Regions from separate parts of the Homo sapiens genome. Here region 2 is linked to region 1. Evidence: fine-mapped expression QTL. Tissue or cell type: whole blood. Region 1 holds a variant in brackets; the other region holds the start of a gene. All regions are shown on one strand. Distances are from middle to middle.

Region 1 (8,107 bases):
AAGGCAAAAGGAAGCAGAGGTCCCTGTTTTCAGGAGAGGACAGGAGAAAGGTGCCAGTACCCTGGCCTTTGGTTATATTTCCCTTTCCCTCTTCAGTAACACATTTCTTGGCAGGACATCTTTTCTGGAAAACCAGACTTGAGCTTGGAGTGGCTCAACAGCCCTTGCTGTAGCTAGGTTTGATGGAGAAGCTGAGAGAGCTGCCTGCACCCGGGTAGGAGGCTCTGTCATGGAGGGGCTCAGGCCATTGCAGGTTTAGGGCCTAAATGTTGTGCAAATATTTGCCCAACAACTCCCAGTGTGCCTTGGAACAAGCAGCAGGAGCGGCCCTGGCTGAGTCCCTGAAGAGAAACGTGGATGTGATGACTTTGAATGGCTCCCAGCTTCTACTTCCTCATAATTTGCCAGGATCTCTGTCGCCAACGAGCCTGGTTACAAGGAGAGGGGGCTCCGTGCTAGCCTGCTAGGCATGATGGAATCTTCCGCATTCTCCAGATGAAGCCCGCACACCCATGCCTTCATCAAGCAGCAGGCACTGCCAATGCGTTTTTGAGCTACAGATTTGTATTCCCAGCAATCTGTGAGATTCTCCCCCTAGATCCTCGCAAAGCTTCTGAATTTATCGAGTTCAAAACAGAACACCCAAACTGGCTTGTCTTGTATTCTCTTTCAGTTAAGGCTGCCTTCCCTAGTCCCCCTAGTTAGAAACCATTGGCTCATCCTTAACCCTCTGCTGCTCTGCCCTCTCCCTCCCGAGTCTGATTGATTCTCCCTCCTAGCTCTCCCCTCAGTGCCTGGAGTGCATGGGTCTGACCCAATGGGTGGTTGGCAGGGGTAGGAGTGGGAGTTGGGAGGAGCACATGACCCAAGCTGAGCTCATTAGATCCCAGGGTTTTTCTAGCTGCAGCAGGCTCTTTTCTCTCTAGATGCTTGCTGGAAGGCTGGGAATCCAGAGGGGCCTGTGGCCATGCATCTGCAGCCTGGCAAAGCCTGCCTGCAGCAGCGAGGGGACATGCTGCAGGGAGAAGCCATGATGAGTGGTGGAGAGAGACTTCCTGAGGGGACAGAGCTCCCAGTACAGCTGTCCCCAAACCAGGTCCACCCCCTGCCCCCATCCATCCTTCACAGGCCACCAGGATTCTTTTCCATGTTCTCCAACTTTTTGTTTTAAAAAAATCCAACTACAAAGAAGTTGACAGAATAATTCAGTGAATACCTACATACCCTTCACCTAGATTCACCAGTTATTAGCATTTAGTGACAGTTATGTTCTCTTTTTCCCTATATATTCATGTATGTGTGTTTTTTCTGAACCATTTGAAAATAAGTTGCTGATGCCATGACACTTCTCCCCTACATATTTCTGCATGTATTGCCTAAGAATGCGAACATTTTCCCCACAGTCACAATACCGTGATCACATTCAAGAAATTTAACAGGGCTGGGCGCTGTGGCTCATGCCTATAATCCCAGCACTTTGGGAGGCCAAGGCAGGTGGATCACGAGGTCAGGAGTTCAAGACCAGCCTGGCCAACATGAAACCCCATCTGTACTAAAAATACAAAAAATTAGTCAGGCGTGGTGGCAGGCACCTCTAATCCCAGCTACTTGGGAGGCTGAGGCAGGAGAATCGCTTGAAACCAGAAGGCAGAGGTTGCAGTGAGCCAAGATCACGCCACTGCACTCCAGCCTGGTCAATAAGATTGAAACTCTGTCTAAAAAAAAAAGGAAAAAAAAAGAAAAGAAATATTAACAATGATATAATAATATCTAATATTAATATATATCCACATTCAATTTTGCCAAGTGGAATTTGTTTATGGATATAAGATATTATGATAGTTTTTTTTCCCTTTTCAATTCAAGAGCCAATCATGGATAACAAATTGCATTTAGTTGTCTTATCTGTTTAGCCCCCGTAACCTAGAATTGTTTTCCTGTCCTTTTTTATATTTCATCATATTAGCATTTTTTGTATCCTTCAATTTGGATTTGCTTTTTCCTCATGATTAGAGTCATGCTGTATATTTTTAACAGAGATAACACTGGATTCTTTTCAGTGTATCACATTAAGAGACACATGATGTCAGTTATTGGTGTGTTAAGTTTGATCACCTTGTTAAGGTGGTGTCTGCCAGATCTTTTCATTGTAAAGGTACAATTTTCCCTTGATACATGGGAATAATTACATATATATATATCTGTTCTTGTAAAGTGGAAATTAAGTATATGTTCTTATGCTGGTTCCCTTGGCTCCAATTTCCACAGGTCAACATAAAGAAGGCCCAGTTGCACCTGCACACACAGTGGGTTGTGTTAGAGGGGAGGAATGCTGAGCTTAGAGAATCAGCATCTTTTATGATAGGCAATAAGTCTCTGACCTCTTCTGCAGAAGACATTATCTTTCTTATACTAGGCACTAAGCATGCCTGTACTTTGCTCCAAAGGGAGAGTCTTGTCTTCCAAGGCTATTTGCTATTCAAATGCCTTTGGAAAGAGATTCCAGAACAGAGGCAGTGAGTGCTCCTGCTCATAAGACACCCACAAATGCTAGAGACGCATGGAGAACTGTCTCCCAACAGATCCTGAAAAATTATCTTTCTACAACACAATCCAGTCATGTTATTCCCCTGTTGTGGCTGGTGGCCTCCCAATTCCTAGTCTCTGCACCTTCAGTAGCAGAGACCCCCACCTCCCCTGACCCACAGCTGTGCACATGGCTTTCCAGAATTTGGTCTGTGTTTCCCATCTTCTCTCTCAGCAAGGTGTGGCTGTATGATTAAGTTCTGAGCAAGAGGCTTTAAGAATAAGTAAGTGTGCACAACTTCTGTAAAATGCCCTTAAATGATAGTGTGCCTTAAAGGATAGGGAGCACGCCTTTCTCCTTCTCTTTCCTTCTTTGTACAACATAAAGTAGCAACCTCCCTCCTCCAAGGCACTTGCTAATTCTCTCTCTGCCTTGTTTGTTTCCACAGAGGTTACACCATTTGACACACTATTTATTTTGCTTATTTTGTATATTGTCTGTCTCTTCTCACTAGCATGTAAACCCCATGAACAGTGCTGGTGCTAGCATTTTTGTATCTGTTGTTGAAATACTGAAATACTTCTGTACCAGTGGGTGGCTGGTCACTCCCCAAGTCCCTGTGTGCTCCCCATGGCACCTCCCAGCTACCCAGCTGTCTTAGTCTTCTTGGGCTGCCATAATAAAATACCATCGACTAGGTGGCTTCAACAACGGAAATGTATTTTCTCACAGTTCCGGGTCCAAGATCAGGGTGCGAGTTAATCTGGTTCCTGGTGAGGTCTCTCTTCCTGGTTTGCAGGCAGCTGCCTTCCTGCTAAGTGCTCACATGGGGAGGGGGGAGAGAGAGTGAGCATGCTCTCTGGTGTTCCTTCTTCTAAAGGACAGTAGTCCCATCAGAACGAGGCCCCCCACCCTTGTGACCTCACCTAACTCATTACCTCCCTAAAAGCCCCATCTCCAAATACCATTGCCCTGAGGATTAGGACTTCAACATAAGAATTTTGGGAGAAACACAAACATTCAGTCAAGAACAATGAAACAGGCCTTGACTCAAATAGTAGGGGGCTCCCAGGACCCCACATCTGCATGAAGGCCAGTGATGCCCTGATCAATCAGTATGCTATACCCCTGAGGTGTTCAACAAATGCTTGTTGCATGAACGCATGACAGAGCCTAGGATGGCGCCAAGCCATTCCATTGTCCATCCCAAACTCAAGAAGAGCTGGAGTCAGGTTCTTCAGTGAGTAAAAATCAGGGAAATTACCAAGCAGCACTTCTCTGCTATTTTTAAACAAAGGACTTCTTTCCTCAAACCCTTCCTATTCCTATCTCATCCCACCCCGGCGGAAGAGGAAATGACTGAGCAGAAACATAGAAGGGGAATCATTTTTTCCCCCTGAGACAATCCATTACCAGGCCCTTCCCTATATCAATTATAGGATCAGCAAGTGCAGGAGAAGCAACACTGCACGGGTGTGAGTGCCGGGACGGGAACACGCAGGCTACCGTCAGCTCAGAGCCACACACATCTTCTCACTGCCTGGTGTGAGTGCCACACGGGAACACGCGGTCCACCGGCCAGTTCAGAGCCACACACATCTTCTCACTGCACTGTGTGACTGCCGGGATAGGAACATGCGGTCCACTGGCCAGCTCAGAGCCACTCGTAACTTCTCCCTCCCTGCACGGTGTGAGTGCTGGGACAGGAACACACAGGCTAACGTCAGCTCAGAGCCACTCACATCTTCTCGCTGACCTCACCTCTCAGGAGTTCCATTCTGCACCAAGGCGATGGAGCAGTTTAAAAGCCTGTATCTGTCACATTTTTAAATGTGCAAGCCTGGTGAACCAAGTGATTCCTCGTTCTGGGATCTACCTTTGAGAAATGCTCACACGCATGCTCAGGGAGGCATTGCTTCCAACAGCAAAAGCAGTTTAAGTAATCTAGATGTCTAGCAGCAGGGAAACAACTAATGGATGTATTGCTAGAGAACACACTATGGGTGGGGAGACAGGAGGACTGAGGAGGAGAGAGAAGGAGAGGTTTTGGGGCTGAGAGCTTGGTGGGCACGGGCTGCCAGCTGTCCCGGCTTCTGGCAGGCTGCTTGCTGCAGACAAGTGGCCATGGGGAAGTCATCACTCAAGAGCATTCTTGCAGGCTTTGCTGATGCCGATGCACGTGCAGCATGGGAGGAGGTGCAGGCCTGGTTTGACCTAACCATGGGTCCGTCTTTAATCACTATTAAAAGCAGTCATTGCTGCCCTCCCTGGTGGCACTGGAGTACTGAAAGTGTAATGGAAAGAAATTAAACTAAAAGTAATGTCTTAAACCTATTAATTTAGAATGGCCAAAAGGAAAAGAAGCCCACAGGAAAGAACTCTTGCCTTTATTTCCCATTAAATGAGCCAAAGAAAACTCTTTCCTTCAAATGACTGAACCCAGCCATTCTTCTAGCTCTCATTGTTCTCTGGTGTTTGCAAAGGGCACTATCTGGCTGCA[C/T]GGCTGTGCCAAAGAGCTCTCAGGACAGTCGTTTAACTGAGGAAAACAGCATGGCGGACCCAGTTTTGCTCACCGTGTCTGCAGGGAGTTAATAAGAACTCCAAGAAAAAATAAGTCTGGGCCGAGCGCAGTGGCTCATGCCTGAATTCCCAGCACTTTGGGAGGCCAAGGCGGGTGGATCATTTGAGGTCAGGAGTTCAAGACCAACCTGGCCAACATGGTGAAACCCTGAATCTACTAAAAATACAAAAATTAGCCGGGCATGATGGTGCACGCCTGTAATCCCAGCTACTCAGGAGGCTGAGGCGGGAGAATTGCTTGAACCCGGGACGCAGAGGTTGCAGTGAGCCGAGATCCCACCACTGCACTCCAGCCTGCACTCCAGAGCGAGACTCTTGTCTCAAAAAAAAAAAAAAAAGTCTGGGAAGCACTGGGTTAAAACAAGTAAAATACCAGCCGGGCGTGGTGGCTCACACCTGTAATCCCAGCACTTTGGGAGGCCGAGGTGGGCGGATCACAAGGCCAGGAGATCGAGACCATCCTGGTTAACACGGTGAAACCTTGTCTCTACTAAAGAATTCAAAAAATTAGCGGGCGTGGTGGCGGGTGCCTGTAGTCCCAGCTACTTGGGAGGCTGAGGCAGGAGAATGCCATGAACCCGGGAGGTGGAGCTTGCAGTGAGCTGAGATCACGGCAGTGCACTCCAGCCTGGGTGACAGAGTGAGACTCTGTCTCAAAAAAAAAAAAAAAAAAAAAGAAGTAAAATACCTTTCTTTACAATAGAGCCTTAAACATATTAATGTGCAATGCAAATCTTCAAGAAGGGTATGGAAAACCGTGTTGGTTTCCTGCTCAACATTCCTTGCCGCACGCCTTTGCTGAGAGACCCTCAGTTTTGTTGGTTTATAGCACCTGTGTGTCTCATGGGCTCCTCCCTGGTCCCAGGATGAAATGTTCACAGGTCGGAGCCATTTTCCTTCAGTAACTGCTTTAGTTATAGCCATGTGCTGTGGTCCTGCATGTAACGAATGCAAAGACGATCGGCCCTGGGAACCTCTAGGAAGGATTTCTTGGCTCTTAAAACATGACACAGGATGAGTACTTGCCCCTTCCTGCCTTAGGACATTGTCATGTGAAGACATGGGCTTGGCGCTACTGCAGTCCTGTTGGAATCATGAGGGAAAAGCCAAGAAAATCTCAGAGAAACTGGTCTTGATCTTTGATGCTGTTAAGTTGCTGCATTAACCACCCCAGAATGGCCCTTTGGGTTTGTCACTTTGTAGTTTAGGCCTTAGGGTATCCTGTGATGTTCAGCTCACAGCATCCTGAAACCAAGGGGCACATAAAGTGCTGACAGTGCCCAACCAATTCATCTGACCACAGAAGGTCCCCCCAGACTAGGCCTCTACTGAGAATGCCTTGGGAAAGGCTGACAGAGTGAGGAAGATGGAGGTGAAGGGCAGATGCTCCAGGCTCTACCCTAGGTTCTAAAAATCACGTGAGCACCTGGGCCTCATTTTCAACTGTGTGAAAAGAACGTGCCAACTAAAACAACAGAAGTCAAGCATCTAATACAGTGCATGTCACATGGTAGGTGTGTCATACATGAAGAGCTGTCATTCATCAAATGGAAGTGGGGAGGGGAGGAGTAGTCCAGTTTCCAAGTCTCATTTATGCCTGAGAGATCTTTGTAACTATTCCAAAAATAATAAGTGTTCCTTGACCCCATACCCATTTAGAGAACTCTCTCACCTCATTCAGCAGGAAAAAAGGGAAAATAAAGATTCCACAGATGTCCTAGGCAAGCATGCTAACTCCCGGGCCCCTAGTCCCTCACTCCTCTGCTAGAGCGAGCTGCGACCAACTCCCTGGATGGCCAGAATACTTCTGTGTCTGCTAATGGCTCTGAAACACTCCTCAGTGAGAACGTCCACATGTACTAGATACCCAGTTTGCTGCAGAGGAGAAATCTCCACTCTAGGCACTCATGGGGATGCCAAGGGGATTGAGTTCCTCCTCGTCCAGAGCTCTGGCTGAGACTCAGAGCAGCAGCCGGCAGACAACTGACCTGGGGCTTTGCTCACTCTCTTCTCTCTCTCTCTCTCTCTCTCTCTCTCTCTCTCTCTCTCGGTTTTGTTTATTGAGGGAAGCATTTAATTTGTAATCATGTATTTCATCCCCAGAAAAAGAATCCCAGGGTTTTCTCTCCTCTGTGCCTTTCTCGTGCTTCCTCGTGGTCCATGATGCCAGCTTCAGTCATCAGGTCAATAAAACCAAACTGATGGGATGGAGACTAATCTGCCATTTTTCTAGGTCTTTGAGTTGCACAGTAAATCTGGAGATGATCACTGCACATTTATTTAGCCTGCCTGTGAGGGTCACAACAATTTTCTCAGTTCTAGGATCAACGACGATTTCAAATTTTCCAAAGTTATCAAGCTTCATCATCACAATGAGAAACCAGATGATGATATTGGAGCACAGCCTAATAAGAACCTGGTGTTGGCCAGGCACACTGGCTCATGCCTGTAATCCCAGAAATTTGGGAGGCTGAGGTAGGTGGATCACTTGGGATCAGGAGTTCAATACCAGCCTGGCCAACATGGTGAAACCCCGTCGCTACCAAAAATACAAAAATTAGCCAGGCTTGGTGGTGCATGCCTGTAGTCCCAGCTACTTGGGAGGCTGAGGCAGGAGAATCACTTGAACCCAGAAGGTGGAGGTTGCAGTGAACCGAGATCGCGCCACTGCACTTCAGCCTGGGTGACAGAGCAAGACTCTGTCTCAAAAAAAGAAAGAAAGAGAAAAAAAGAACCTGGTGTCTGCTTCTCTTTTCAGCATTGTTGGTGCTCTGAGGGTGTCAGCCAGGCCACTCATGCAGACCATTGCGGCAGCACTGAAAATGGAAGAAAGATGGGATTCTGCTGTCTTTTGTTTTGGCTGATGAACAGCACCGAGATGGAGTGGCTGTGAGTATAAGCGTGTGTGTGTGTGTGTCTGTGTGTGCGTGTGCACGCACGTGCGTGCATGCATGCCTATGTGTCATACCCAGGTACTGTCTTCACTTTGTAGAAACATCT
Region 2 (8,107 bases), 170 kb before region 1:
CTAGAATTTGCTAGGTCAAAGAGAAACTTTGATATTATCTAGTTCCCCTTGACAGAAGTTGAAACAATTTATAGTCCTAATACACTTACAATATATTAGAATGCTTGTTTCCTCATATCTTCACCATCATAGTGTGTAATCAAACTTTTTCATCTGTGCTATTCTAATAGGTGAAAAATGATAACAGTATAACCCCCAAAAGAGAATTATCTTTTTCTCCACATCCTCAACAGCATTTGTTATTATCTGTCTTTTGGATATAGGCCATTTTAACTGGGGTGAGATGATATCTTATTGTAGTTTTGATCTGCATTTCTCTAATGATCAATGATGTTGAGCACCTTGTCATATCCCATTTGCCATTTGTATGTCTTCTTTTTTCTTTTTTTGTTTTAAATTTTTTAAAAAGTTTTTTTATAGAGATGGGGTCTCATTATGTTGCCCAGGCTCGTCTTCAATTCCTGGGCTCAAGGGATCCTCCTGCCTCGGCCTCCCAAAGTGCTGGGATTACAGGTGTTGAGCCACTGTGCCTGGCCCCTTTGTTTTTCTTATTGAATTTTAGCCTTTTAATTTGTAGGAGCTCTTTTATATTTTACTGAAATTAACTACAAAAATGAATTGCACCAGCTTGGGCAACATGGTGAGACCCTGTCTCTACCAAAAATACAAAAAATTAGCCGGGCATGGTGACACGTGCCTGTGATTCCAGCTACTCGGGAGGCTGAAGTGGGAGGATCACTTGAGCCCAGGAGGCGGAGGTTGCAGTGACCCAAGATCATGCCGCTGCACTGCAATCCAGCCTGAGTTAGAGTAAGACCCCATCTCAAACAAACAAACAAACAAACAAAAAACCCACAAAAATGAGTTGCTGCTATTTTTTCCAGTTTGTCATTTTCCTTTTGGCTTATCTGGTGATTTTTTTTGCCCTTTTTTTTTTTTTTTTTTTTTTTTTTTAAAGAGACAGGGTCTTACTGTGTTGCCCAGGCTGGTCTTCAACTCCTGGCCTCAAGCTATGCTTCTACCTCGGCCACTGGAGTTGTTGGGATTACAGGCATGTACCACCATGCCCGGCTCATACATTTATAAAAATTGAATTTATCGGTCTTTTAGATCTTGTGTCATAGTGAAAGTGTCTTTTTCCGTTCTGAGGTTATAAATGAATCATTGTATGGTTTTATTGTTTACATTTAAATCTTTGACATATCTGGAGTTTTTGCTAGTGTATTGTATAGGGTATGGATCCAACATTTTTTCTAGATAGCCCATTTGTCTGAATGAGAAACTTTTTTTTTTTTGAGACGGAGTCTTGCTCTTGTTGCCCAGGCTAGAGTGCAATGGCGTGATCTAGCTCACCACAACCTCCACCTTCCGTGTTCAAGCGATTCTCCTGACTCAGCCTCCCGTGTAGCTAAGAATTACAGGCATGCGCCACCTTGCCCAGCTAGTTTTGTTATTTTTAGTAGAGAGGGGGTTTTTCCATGTTGGTCAGGCTGGTCTCAAACTCCCGACCTCAGGTGATCCACCCGCCTCGGCCTCCCAAAGTGCTGGAATTGCAGGTGTGAGCCACCTCGCCCGGCCCTGAATGGGAAACTTTTTACTGCTGTCATTCTTGGACTATCCTCCACATGCACGTGGATCATATTTCTGTTTGCTCAGCCCAGACATCAGAACTCAGATGCCTGTAGAGACTAGGCAAGTTACATAAAAGGGTGAAGAGTGCCAGGTGGGAAGTATAGCCAACTGGAAATGGATGGCATATTTTTATAAAGAGGGCAGCCACTACCCGGTGCCTGCTGATTACTCTCTTGCACGAATGCAGTAGGTCCCAGTGTTGCCAGATCTTTGTCAAGAGAAGCTGAAAATATACATTTTTATATGAAGCCTCTTGATTTTAAAATGTTAACAATTAAATTTAAATACAGCCTTAGCTAAACAAAATATGTCTTCAGGCCTGACTTGGCCCAGAAAAGCCTTCTGATATTCCTAGCCAAGAATGAGATTTCTAACAAGTTTACTCTCCTATGAGTAAAGAGAACATACATGGTCTAGTAGTTTGACATCACAGTAGTTTATAGCTGGAGTCTGGGAACAGGAGAGAAAAGTAAGGACCCTCTATATAAGCCAAAGTCTTCGCTCTCACAGACTGAAACATTAATGGGAGAAATACAAGCATTTTACCATCCCACCTTTTATCCCAAGTACATGTGAATGGATATGGCCATTTATTAGAGGATGTTCTTGATTTAGTGGATACTTTAGTGGATTAGAAAAATAATCTTATTTTCCAACTCTGCCATTCTGATTTTGCCCAAATGAAAAAGTGGTGCATGTTTTGGGGAGAATAATTGCTCAGCTACTGATGCCGGAACTGAATTGTAGTACTGACTTATTTTTTGTACCCTGTTCGTCTTTTCCCTTTCTCACTGCTGGTGGCTAGGGACAGGGAGTAAAATATCTTCTTTACAACCTGTTAAAAGTAATGTGCTCAGCCTCTTTAGTGGGATGAAATTTGTGGTAATGAGTTACCAGAGCCTATGCCTCTTTGGATTGAAAAGCTTGTCAGGATCTTTTCTGGGTTGCTAATGAGTGTTTCCTAGACGCCGATCCAGGTTTTGTAGGACCTGAAGCCTACACAATTTGGATGACACGATTAAGAAAACAATTCGAAAATATCTTGAAAGTTTTGTAAAAACGATATGATTTTGTGAACGCACAGGGGCCCGTGCAAGTGAAGGACCTTTCAATTCAAGCTTGATCAACGTCACTGTCATCTGCCCCTTCTGACCCTACCACCAGGCTAAGGGCTTTCCACGCCTCATCTCTCGGTCCCCACACCATCACCCTAAGAAATAGTTACTGTATCTCCTAACGATATATTATATATAGTACCTACTTTGTGTAAACATACGGTACTCATGAAAACAAGCCACGTAGAGCACAAATACGTTAAATATCCTGTCCAGCCCGAATGCCCCTTTCTCTCCACGTCCCTATGCAGCCTCCCACGACGGTAGTCCTGGGGCTCCAGCGCTACAAGAGTGGCACCGAGTCCGGATTGTCTTAAGCAGGTCGAGAGGAGGGAGCATATGGGTAAAAAGCAGTCAAACTGAAGAGTCTGGAGCGGCCCCCAGCACAGTCTCGGGAAAAGCGGACTCCCCCGGGGCCCCAGGCCCCGCACCCCCGCGCCGGGCTGGCGCCTGTGCCTGCTCCGCGGCGCGCATGCTCCGTGTTAGGCCTCTTGGGCTATTCGGGATAATGAGCGCCGGGCCGAGGGGGCGGGCCGAGCCTCGGCTGCTGGGACTCAGGGCTCAGCGGCGACCCCAAGGCACTCTGCGCTGCTGCTAAAGGGGCAGCAACGGCGGCCAGCGCTGTGCGCGCCATAGCGAGGCTCGCTCGCCCGACGCGCACTCCGGGTCGGTCCCCAGAGCTCTGTGGAGGTGACTCGAGTGGGCAGGGCCGGGCGGCGCTGTCGGCTGGGAGGGCGGGGAGGAGGCGATGAGGAGACGAGCAGCCGCCGCCGCCGCCGCCGCTGCTCACCGCCCGCCGCGGCCGTAGCGGGAGTCGGGGCGGGGCTGGGCCAGCTGTACCCCTGACGGGCCGCGAACCCAGACAAAGGAGGAGGAGCCGCCCCAGAAGCGGGCCAGCGCCGCCGGGAAAGGAGGTCGCCGCCCGGGGTCGCCCGGGCTTGCGGGTCGCCGCGCTTCCTCTGCGGGCGCTGCGGGAGGCGAGGGCCGCCTCGGCGGAGGAAGCCGACCCCGGGGTCTCCGCCAGCCCGCCGGCGCCGCCTCCGAGCCGCCTCGGCCGTAGCCTCGGCCCGGGCGGGAGGCGGCGGCCGCCGGCGAGGCGAGGCGGCCCGCGCCCTGCCTGTCAGGCCACCGGCCCGGCCCGCGGGCTGCCCCCGATGCGGAGGCGCTGTCGCCGGGGCCATGCAGCAGGCGCCGCAGCCTTACGAGTTCTTCAGCGAGGAGAACAGTCCGAAATGGCGGGGACTGTTGGTCTCGGCCCTGCGGAAGGTCAGTGCTAGGGGCGGGGCGGCCGGCGGGTGGCCCGTGGCCCCCCGAGCTTCTAACGGGGAGCAGGTCGTCCCTCCCACAGGGCTCGAGTCCCCGGGGCCGAGCCGTTTCTCGTTGGCTGGCAATGGGGGGCTCACAATTGCCTGTTGCATTCTGAAGGACGTTTCTCAAGTTTTTTTTTTTTGCCTGGTCCCGGAAGGAAGGTTTTGTTATGATCATAAAACTGGATTTCATGTTGCAGTCATTTCGTCAGGCAACTTCCGCCGTTGACCAATTTGTTGTCCTCAGGCTGGAATCGGGCAAGAGAAAGTCCCGCTGGTATTTAGACAGTTTCTAAAACAAAAGCACATTTTCAGGCCGGGTAATTACTTTTAATTAAGTTCTTTGGGAGTGTTCCCCCTAGGCGGTTTGCTTGTCAAGGGTATCCACTTATGAGGCAATGGTTTTTTGTAATATGGATGTTTCACATGTGTGAAATGTCAGTGAGTCATAATATTCTTATTCATTTTACAGTTCTCAAGGTAAATTTAAAGCGCCTTCCCACTTCCTGCAAACGGTGTCTTACCTGTTTACAAGAGATTACCCTTAGAAAATTTGGTCAGTGTCTTCAGTGTCTTCACGACCAAATTGCGATTTAGGACTTGAAATCATTTTAAGGAACAAGAAAGGGGCAACTCCTGCAAATCAGTCTTTCATGTTTGGGTGCATTGCTAGGGTGCATCTTTCCTGTAGATGGTGGCGGTCTTCCTCTGTGAATTTAGGTAGTAACCATACGATCATTTTTATAATAAATCCTTCTGTAAGATCAAGACATTTAAAGACTGTGAATAGGTGCGTGATCAGCTGTCATGCCTGTTGAGCAGGGGCTTTCTTTCTTTGCCGTTAATGCAGACTTAGTCTCTTCTGCCTTTTGTGCAAAATAACCAAGAATACATTCTAAAATAAGGAAAAAATAAAGATTAATTTAAAAGACTATACTTGGAAAATATATCCTCAGACATTAAATTTCTATAAATGAAAGGAAGTAGTGTATTTTAAAGTTAAAGACATTTTCCTCATGCGATGAGAGTTGCAGATTTTCCCTTATTTTCATAATTCTTACAAGGAAGTATTGCTTTCCTCAGGGCAAACACTAAGTCGTATCTTTTTAAAGAACCTGGCAGAAATGACTAGTGGCAGCTAGACAGTTATTCCATTGGTATACCAAGTGCTAAAGTATTAAATTGACCTTACTTCCATGTGCAGCCCAATTCTGTAAGGAGAGGGAAAGAAATGAAAAGTGTGCTGAGTGGTGAAAATGAACTCTGGCCTGAATTAAAAGCAAAGGGGGAAATGCCTAGATAGTAATTAGCCCTTTGACCACAGACAAGTGTGAGTGCAGTAATCAGGTAGGCCTATATTGTTGGCAATGTGACGCAGGTATATACCCATTTATAACTTTCTGGTAGCAAATAGTATTTGGGTGTGTGTTGCATAACTTGTTCAATAGGTAGCTTTGATTCTAATAATCCTTTATGTCCAGAAACAGATTTATGTTTTCTTTTTCTTCAAATAGAGACAGGGTTATGCTATGTTGCCCAGGCTGGTCTTGAACTTCTGGCCTCAAGCAGTCCGCCCACCTCTGCCTTCCAAACTGTTGGGATTACAGGCATAAACCACCTCGCACCAGACCCAGATTTTTTTTTTTTTTTTTCAAGTTAGGCTGGAGAAGCCAAGATTAGCATCCAATCCTAGTCCATTGCTTTGGTGCTATTACTTTGCATTTATATTGTGCTTGTTTTCCTGGAACTCAGGTGCCTTGTAGATACTATGTTATATTCCACAGTTCTAGTATGTTCTTTATGAAATAAATACATCTAAGAAAATTTGGTCTTTTGAGGTGAATTCAGAAAACATTTTCTATTAACTTACTGTTGTGATAGAATTGAAATACATACGTATGGAAAATTTTTTTATATTTTTGGAAAAATTTTGGTAAAAGTAATTAAGATTATGTCCACTTTTATGGTATTTAGGACATTGCAACTTGTAGGTCTGTAGTGCCTGCTAAGAGCTGTAGCTCTTAGGGAGCTAAAGGTTCACTCTTTCTTTGCAGGAAGTTTTAAATTCTGGTATGCATCAGCCACCTTGTCTTTGTAAAATGAGAATTTCTACCATTTTGGGGGAGTCTCTGTCTTCACATTCAGAGCATCTAGAACTTGGCATCCTTCCTCTAGCTGACCAGATCGTTACAAAGACAACTAGGATTTGATTGGAATATCTCTCTCCTTCAATTGGTGTTGCCATTGTACATGTGGTGTATTCTAGCTTCATTAATTCACTTAACCATTATTGAACACATTTTACATACTTGACATGATGCGGGATCCTAAGAGTACAAAGTTAAAATAAAGGCCCCTCCAAAGATGTATACCATCTAAACCAAAAATTCTAAAATTTGAGGTTTTGGTTTATGTAAATGAGAGCGGTTCTGAGCTCAGAGTTCAGTAAGGGGTATTTGTGTGTCTATGAAAGCAGCAATGTAGCTTACTTGGCTCTGTCAGTTTAGTCCACTTGGACATCTTGGTGGAACCTCCAAAACTGTTAGAACGTAATTTTCAGAAAGGTAAAGTCATCACTTCCATGCAAATGTAAATGAACATGTATCAATTATTTTGATTCAGCCCATTGATGAGGGAACTAGTAAGATGTTAAAGTCACTTAATATGAAAATTTGAGGAGGTATTTATAGGCAATTTAATAAGGGAATATTAAGACTGTTGGGTTACATACAGAATTAGTTAATACCCTACAAGAAACATAAAAGAGTAGGCTTTGGGTTATATTTTCCTCTGGCTAAAAATTACTTGCATCTCAGTGGGCGTGGTGGCTCACACCTGTAATCCAGCACTCTGGGAGGCTGAGGCTGGTGGATCAACTGAGTTTAGGAGTTCGTGACCAGCCTGGCCAGCATGGTGAAACCCCGTCTCTACTAAAAAATACCAAAAATTAGCTGGGTGTGGTGGTGTGTGCCTGTAATCCCAGCTGCTCAGGAGGCTGAGGCAGGAGAATCACTTGAACCTGCTAGGCAGAGGTTGCAGTGAGCCGAGATCACACCACTGCACTCCATCCTGGGCGACAGAGCGAGACTCCATCTCAAAAAAAAAAAAAAAATTACTTGCATCTCTATCTGCTGAAAAGCTGTAACTTAATCTTATAGATGTGTAAAATAGTCAGTAGAAATTAATAAAAGATTCAAGCATAGCACTGTACTGAAACACAGCCAGTATTCTTTTGCTTATTTTCCAGTTTTGGCTAGTTTTTATGAAAACTGGATATCTATGTCTATATCCATGTATATATCCATATATACCCATATATAGATCCATATATATATGTATTTGACAAAGTCACCATTGTCAACATTGAAAATTCAAGGGATTTTTAAAAAACCAATCTCAAGTATTCATTGCATTACATAGAAACACAGAGATGGGCTGGGCGCAGTGGCTCATGCCTGTAATCCCATTTGGGAGGCCAAGGCGGGCAGATTACCTGAGGTCAGGAGATCGAGACCATGCTGGCTAACACGGTGAAACCCCATCTCTACTAAAAATACAGAAAAAAACCCAAAAAATTAGCCGGGCGTGGTGGCGGACGCCTGTAGTCCCAGCTACTCGGGAGGCTGAGGCAGGAGAATGGTATGAACCCAGAAGGTGGAGCTTGCAGTTGAGCCGAGATCGCGCCACTGCACTCCAGCATGGGCGATGGAGTAAGACTCTGTCTCAAAAAAAAAAAATACCAAAATTAGCCAAGTGTGGTGGTGCATGCCTGTGATCCCAGCTACTCGGGAGGCTGAGGCAGAGAATCTCTTGAACATGGGAGGCAGAGGTTAGAGTGGGCTGAGATCGCACCACTGCACTCCAGCCTGGGCGACAGAGCGAGACTCTGTCTCAAAAAAAAAAAAAAAGAAAGAAAGAAAGAAAAAGAAACACAGAGATAGACAAATAGGTTTATGGAAAAATAATTTTGGGAATAGAAATGTGGTGTTCTTTAGCTTTTTGCTTGTTCTTAAACTTTTAAAATAGAACCTCACCTAGATCATTTAAAAACAG

What was found. PIP is the estimated chance that this variant, and not a neighbour inherited with it, causes the effect.
Region 2: it holds the start of SOS2, and the variant in region 1 is fine-mapped to the expression of SOS2 in whole blood (TOPMed, PIP above 0.99).

The regions. Positions count from the first base shown.
Region 1 is chr14:50,052,663-50,060,769 of GRCh38, reverse strand. It overlaps LINC01599 (long intergenic non-protein coding RNA 1599), which reads left to right. Exons shown (of 9, transcript NR_131171.1): 3 at 7,866-7,996. It also overlaps the pseudogene RPS15AP2. Among named protein-coding and RNA genes, the nearest start is that of LINC01599, 48 kb to the left of the region's middle. RefSeq lists enhancers at 4,589-4,708, 4,759-4,818. The variant C/T (reference allele first, on the strand shown) is at 5,028.
Region 2 is chr14:50,227,103-50,235,209 of GRCh38, reverse strand. It overlaps SOS2 (SOS Ras/Rho guanine nucleotide exchange factor 2), which reads left to right and starts at 3,632. Exons shown (of 23, transcript NM_006939.4): 1 at 3,632-4,013. The coding sequence starts at 3,927. RefSeq lists an enhancer at 2,721-2,810 and a silencer at 2,961-4,040.